Homo sapiens: one gene and its partner. The protein of the gene in region 2 interacts with the protein of the main gene of each other region in a biochemical or structural test. Each region holds a gene or a part of one and is shown on either strand. Other genes may lie near its edges. The genes, in order: RAD18 and SLF1.

Region 1 (3,832 bases), on a different chromosome or scaffold from region 2:
GTAATATTGATGTTCATAAATACATACAAGCCATCAATGATATTCAAGAGAGGTTCAACTAATTAAAAAAACTTTTCTTAATGGGAAATATTCAGTCAGATTTTCTCAAGTGCTAAACTAGTTTCTAGAAATATCCTTTAACAACTGCATGAACAAGTTCGAGTTGTTCAATGACCATGAGTTACATACTGAGGCAGCACTTTATGCACAAATTGTTTATTAGTCACTAGGGAAATGCAAATCAAAACCACAATGACATACCACTTCACATCTACAATTTTTAAAAAATTTAAAAATCAGAAAATAACAAGCATTGATGAGGATGTGAAGAAATTGGAACCCTCATGCTTCGCTGGTGGGAATGTAAGATAATGCAGCCACTATGGAAAAGTTTAACGATTCCTCAAAAGGTTCTAAACATAGAACCAGCATATGAATCAGAAATCGCACTCTAAGCTGAAACTTAAATATCTGACCACCAATGCTCATAGCAGCATTATTTATAAGAACCAAAAGGTGGAAATAACCATAGCAGATAAATGGATAAACAAAATATGACATATACATACTATGGAATACTGTTTAATCAAAAATTTTAAAATATTTTAAAATTTTAAAATGTGCTACAACATTGAAGGACTCTGAAAACATTATGCTTAGAGAAAGAAGCCAACACACAAAGACAAATATTATACAATTCCATTTATATGAGGTACCTGGAATGGGCAAACTCATAGACACAGAAAGTGGAATTGTTATTACCAGGGCTATGAGGCAGAGGGGACGGAAGAGTTGCTATTTCATGAGTGCAAAGTTTGTGCTGGGAATGATGAAAATGTTTTGGATATAGACAGTGGTGATAGTTACACAATATTGTGAATGTACTTAATGCCAATGACTTGTACATTTATGAAGGGTTAAAAAGATAAACATTGTGTTATGTATATTTTACCACAATATAGAAAAACATAATAAGCAATTTTCTTGCGCACTTTCCCCCATTATGATTCTTTTTTGTTCACTGGTCCAAAGCCCAGGCAATAGAATTAAAATATCAATTTCAAATTTTAAAATGGATCAAAGTTAAGGAACGTGCTCTGTATTAGCCTACCAGGTATGTTAACTTTAGACTGTTTGGCAGAACATTTCATCCAAAGTAAACACCAGTGTTCTATCACAAAAATAATTCACTCTCTTTACAGGATCTCCACCAATAAATTCTATATCTAGAAAACATCCTGAAGCTTAAATAACAAAGAAATTTATGATTTATCATTAACTGAAAGGACGATAGACAAAAAGAGATTGTTTCTTCAGGACATTCTTCCAACCACTTTCCCCATAGTAATAAATCTAGTTTACAAACTGCTACATGAAGTTTGTCTAAAAATACTTTTTCTCATTTCAAAGAACTAAGAACTCCAAAGTAAATTTCTTTGGTTTAATTTTTTCATATTAAAAGTAAATAATGAAATTCGACATATGTCTGTTTTTAATTATAGTCTCTTACCCATGCATACAGAAGATAGCTTTTCTGTAGATTCATCTTCTTTTGTTATTGTTACTGTTTTTTGTGACATTCCAGCAATTTTCTTGTATCCTTTTCTAGCCTGATCCACCAGAAGCTGAAATTCACTCTTATGTTTTTTACCTGAAATTCAAAAGATCTTCTCAGTAAAGCTAGGACTATGAAAGTTAACCATCTACAACTGACAAACTGAATATCAAGAGGTGTACAAGGGATGGGCATGGTGGCTTACGCCTGTAATCCCAGCACTTCAGGAGCCTGAAGTGAATGGATCACTTGTCAGGAGTTCGAAACCAGCGTGGCCAGCATGGTGAAACCCCATCTCTACTAAAAATACAAAAAAAATTAGCCAGGTGTGGTATCACATGCCTGTAATCCCAGCACTTTGGGAGGCCGAAGTAGGTGGACCATTTGTCAGGAGTTCGAGACCAGCCTGGCCAACATGGTGAAACCCTATCTCTACTAAAAGTACAAAAAAATTAGCCAGGTGTGGTATTGTGTGCCTATAATCCCAGCTACTTAGGAGGCTGAGGCACAAGAGTCACTTGAACCTGGGAGGCAGAGGTTTCAGTGACCCGAGATTGCACCACTGCACTCCAGCCTGGGCAACAGGGCAAGACTCTGTCTCAAAAAAAAAAAACAAAAAACAAAAAACAGAGGTGTACAAGCTTGCTCAAGAACAGCATCCTTAGGAATCACTTGCAATAAATTTAAAAGCTGCCAAGCATAAGAATACAAAGGGCTGGAGTGTCATGGAACCTTCTTTTTATCTTCTCCCTTCCTCAAATACAAATATGGAAACATGATATTCCTAGTTAGCTACTCTAGGTTTCTTCCCAAACTCCATTCTCTAGAAAGGCTTTTACATAATCATAAGAGCATGAAAGATGCCCGCTTTCTTAAATATATACAAATGATACCATTCTAACTTCCAAGATACAAGAGAACTAAGAGTATTTGCTGAATCTAAAATAGAAGCTTCTAGGAAAGTTGAATCATCATAACAAAGGAATGTCCGTCTACTCCAGCTCTCCTTTTTTTCTTCACATTTCCGGCCGGTTTCCCAGTAGAGCCCCTTTAAGATTCTAAGATCTCTCCCAACCAATTCTACCTTATCTTACGATACTATACTAACTCTAATCTTTATTTACTACCATTTTAACACCTTTGAATATAATTAACCCTGACCTCAAGATCATCATTATTAATGTACCAATCTGTTCAATAAAGAGCAGCCAGTCATCATTACTGTATGGACTTTAGGGCATGTATTTGTGATTCTGAACCATGCAGCTGAGGTCACAGTTTACTTATCTAGCAACGTTAAATACTTAGGCCACAGTCCAAAGTAATGTCATAAATCCTATAAAATTTTTAGGGAGAACCATACTACAAATGGTTAAAACAAAATTTTGACACTGTTTTCATACAAAAATCAACAATGTACTTGTTATCACTTGGTTTCTTCCATTTTCCTTAGCATAATACTAAGGCATAGGGAATTTACTGGGTGTAGGGAAAAAATTGTGCTTCAGTTGAACTATGGCATTGTCTAAATCTACTCTCCCAAGATTCCAGCCATTCACTGCCTTTGAGCTATGGTATAACTCTGTATGTTGTAGATAACTGAGAGCAATGGAAAATAATTCTTGTCTATAGATATGCAAAATCCTGTTGGGTGGAGGTTCAATTGACTTTCCTCCTCCAATGTGGAAGAAGCCAGTTTTTTGCTCATTATACATTCATTTCAATGTTCCTCATCTGTAAATGTGATGATTCTTTGGCTCCTTCTTTGATCACCTCATAATATCAGTCTTCTCTCTACTAATGAGTTTAAATCTTTAATAAAAACACATGTTCATTTTACATCCATATGAGAATGATGTTAGTTGTTTTTGAAAATTATCTTTTAACGCAAAAAGAGAAAACACTAAATTGTGACGCACAAGGAAGAAAATAGTTGGATTCCTATACATGAATATTGACAGGCACAGCAAAGACATTCAGGAAAGAATGCTCCTAATTACAATATTTTTATGTGTATGGTACATGTATGAAAACTTCTAGTGAAACTAATGTTGGGCTATAAAATGTATGGCATATTTTAAATAAAAGACCAATTAAAGTGTCAGCAAAAGAAATATATGCTGGCCGTAAAGATCACTGGAAAAAACTAACTCTTTACAAACAAGTGAGATCCTATCTAGGACACAAGCTAGGTGATTTCTTTGAGGTCCTATTTCACTCTACGCACTTGAGGATAATTATCTTGTATTTCTCTGGCTGCTTAGAATCAATGGGCTA
Region 2 (3,559 bases):
TTACAACAGAGGAATGCTAAGGGAGAATTGCCCTTGGATTATGTGGTTTCACCTCAAATCAAAGAAGAACTGTTTGCTATTACAAAAATAGAAGATACAGTGGAGAACTTTCATGCACAAGCAGAGAAACATTTTCATTACCAGCAACTTGAATTTGGCTCCTTTTTACTTAGTAGGATGTTGCTAAATTTTTGTTCAATTTTTGATTTATCTTCAGAGTTCATTTTAGCTTCCAAAGGGTTAACTCATCTAAATGAACTGCTTATGGCTTGTAAAAGTCATAAAGAAACCACCAGTGTTCATACTGACTGGTTACTGGATCTTTATGCTGGAAATATAAAGACATTGCAGAAACTCCCACACATTCTTAAGGAACTGCCTGAGAATTTGAAAGTGTGTCCTGGGGTACACACTGAGGCCTTGATGATAACATTGGAAATGATGTGTCGGTCAGTCATGGAGTTTTCATGATGATGCTAGAAAGTATGGATTGACTTTCTAAATCTGTTCAGTTTGCATTGGTACTTACTGTGGACTTCATAGCTTACTGACAGATAGTAATTTGATTTATTTATTGACAGACTTTGCAGCCTTGCTAAATTTTAAAAGCATTTTTAAAAAAACTTCTACAAAACTCTAGTATGGGCTTCTGACTTTTTCCAGGGTGTAGAATTTGACTCAAAAGTAAAAATAATTTTGTTTTAGTATATTCTACTTTCATTAATGTTTTTTTGTTCTGAAAGTGATATTATATTGTACATGTAAAATTAATTTAAATATTTTTTCAAATAAAAATGTAATGTCCTGTATTCTAGATGTTCTAGGTCTTAGAATCATGGCAAGCATATTCATACAAATGCGTACCTATAAACTTGTAGCTCCTGACTCTTAGGGATGGATTTTGAGGAAAAAACAAGACTAAACAAAAACATGTAGCTCCCTATTTCTTCTCTCTAGGTTGTTGGACTGAAATATGCATTTTAGCTTTGTGTGTTTCTAAAATAAACATTTCTAAAATTTACAGTAATAATTAATATTCTTTTGGTTTTTAAATGCAGCAAATATGCAGAGTCTGACAGTTCAATTCCTTGATCTGTTTTATTTTAGCAATTCATATACAAAATGTATCTGTCGCTGCCCTATGTAACCCAGTATTCTGTACCTGAAAACATTCTGCTGCATAGGTTTATGAGTTTAATATTAAGATATTGAGTGGCATCTAAGTAATAGATTTGAGATTATTTAAGATCTTAATATATAGTATGAATTTACTGAGTAGTAATGTTTTAATTTGCAGTTTTTCCTTATAGCAGTTTGTAGTAAAACTAAAAGAAAGGGTGTGGATAATAACCACTTTTGAGATTGGAGTTTCTTCACTACTGGGAGTAAGTTACATTATGATACAGGTGGAAAATAAACACTTCCATTTAGCTTTTATGTAATTCAAGTGATGACCTTAGCAGTTAATCTGCTAAAGCAATACACTTCAGTTTTATTTTGGAAATAGATATTTTAACAAGATACAAATGCTCAGTATCATATTACTGGGTTTGTAATCTAAATTGAAAACTGCTATATCAGTATGAAAAAATATTTTAAATAAGTACTTTTTCCACACATACTCAGGAAATACTAGTTTCTATTTAGCCTTCAAATTTGGCATCATACAAATCTCTTTATTATTAATCTGCCAAAGTATCAGACAAAAAATGATATAGTGAAGACTATCTAAGAAGAGTTTAAATGCTTATAGAGAGTAAAGTGCTTCTCCAGATGATGAATAAGAACGTTTTTTATTCCAATGAGTACCTCTTTACTTCACTTGTAAAGGTGTCTGGGATAGTGTTTGCTTGGTAAACTAATATAAACTTGTAAACATAGGCTTTGACATCATACACATTTTCAAATCCTTGTCTAGTTTCTTAATAACTAAATTGCAAGGCAAATTCTTTTCTGAGCTTTGGCTTTCCTACATGTCAAATAGAAATCACACCAGGTATCTTTGTCATGATAGAATTGTTAGCATATCACATCATATGACACTTAATAAATATTATTTCCTTTCTAATTCTTACCTCCTCTTTTGATTATAATGAATCATTTAGACAAAAGGCAATATAGTAATTGTTTAAGTTGGTAGTAATTCTAAGGTAATTAAGGAATCAACATCATGAGTTAGGGTTTTATACTGTTAGTACAAAGTAGTTTTCCAAATTAGATGTTCATAACGTATATTTGTTTAATTGCAATTAGCATTAATATTTCATAATTGACTGCTCTGTCTGCCAACTTCTACAAGCAGTGATGACATGAAGTGTGAAACAGATGTCACTGAGGTCTCTGCCTTTAAGAAGTTTTACACTTCTTCGAAAGTCCAACGTGGCAAACATAGGTTACTGTGTTCTGTGCCCTGGCTAACAATACCAGTATATGAGTATGAATCTAAATGTTCAGGAAAAGGCTTCATTCCCAAAATTACTTCTTATACTTTATTTTAGAAAACATAATAATAATTGCCTTGAATAATTGCCCAAATCTATCTTGGAGGTATAGGAAGAAGAAATTCTCAATAAGTAAAGTATAATTCATAGTCTTAGTCCTAGATTTTCAATGGCAGACTTTTCAAAGTTGCATCTGAAGACAAGGTTGAGAAATGCTATTCTTCACTGTATTTTGCCAGATGTGATATCATAGTTCTATGGAATCATATTTTTTAAATTTCTGTAAGAGACCTTATTACAATGTAAATAAAGCTGGAGAGGAGATTTCTGAGCAGTTAAGATTCAGCTTTTCCCCATGCATTGTTTACTGGCAGTTTCTTAAATCTCTTTGAAGTTAGAGTTTTCTAGGTTGTTAATTTTTAATTTCACTTTGCAGAATAAAATCATCCAAGTATATACATATTCTGTCATTTTATTCATTCCAAGATGACCAGAAAAACATTTATCCTCATAAAAGTCAAATGTGAAATTAATTCCTTTGAATTCAGCATTTCTTGAACACCTACTCTGAACCAGGTGGTGTGCTTGACAAGGGCTAACTACAAAAAAAGAGGAAAGGCCCACAGTCTAGGAAGGTAAATAAGGCTTAAGTATTGTGAATTTTATTGTCTTCTACATCTGCTAAAAAATTAATTTCAGTAATAATTGGTGTTCTGTTTTAGTTTATAAATGTGAATATTCAAGTGTCCAGTACTTTAATCCTTTGATGAGTATTATTTTAGCAATTTTATTTTAGAGTGGATAGGGTGTAGGGTGTGCTTTTGCAGTCTTAGTATTTTTAAGCAAGCACAAATGCATTACACTAAGATACTTTATATAACCTCCAGAAAATATCTGCCATTTTTGTTTATGCTGCTATAGAAAGTTAATTAAATGAATACCTTCACATGAAAAAAATATCCATGGAATGTGCAATCCTTATGCCTTTATACACCTTTCCAGTTAAGCGGTGAACTTGATGAGAGCCTGTCACTGTTGCTCCTTAATCAGTAGGAAGGGGTCATCTTGAGTGACATGAGGCACTCTTTCCCTGAGGCATTTATCACGTAGCTTTCACG

Evidence for each region.
Region 1: the proteins of SLF1 (region 2) and RAD18 form a complex in vitro, tested with the Homo sapiens proteins (one study listed by BioGRID).

Annotation. Positions count from the first base shown.
Region 1 is NC_000003.12:8,900,870-8,904,701, forward strand, and holds part of RAD18 (E3 ubiquitin-protein ligase RAD18), read right to left. Parts: intron 1,652-3,832; coding exon 1,511-1,651; intron 1-1,510. UniProt on the Homo sapiens protein: E3 ubiquitin-protein ligase involved in postreplication repair of UV-damaged DNA. Postreplication repair functions in gap-filling of a daughter strand on replication of damaged DNA.
Region 2 is NC_000005.10:94,694,842-94,698,400, forward strand, and holds the end of SLF1 (SMC5-SMC6 complex localization factor protein 1), read left to right. Parts: coding exon 1-471; 3' UTR 472-2,780; downstream 2,781-3,559. UniProt on the Homo sapiens protein: Plays a role in the DNA damage response (DDR) pathway by regulating postreplication repair of UV-damaged DNA and genomic stability maintenance.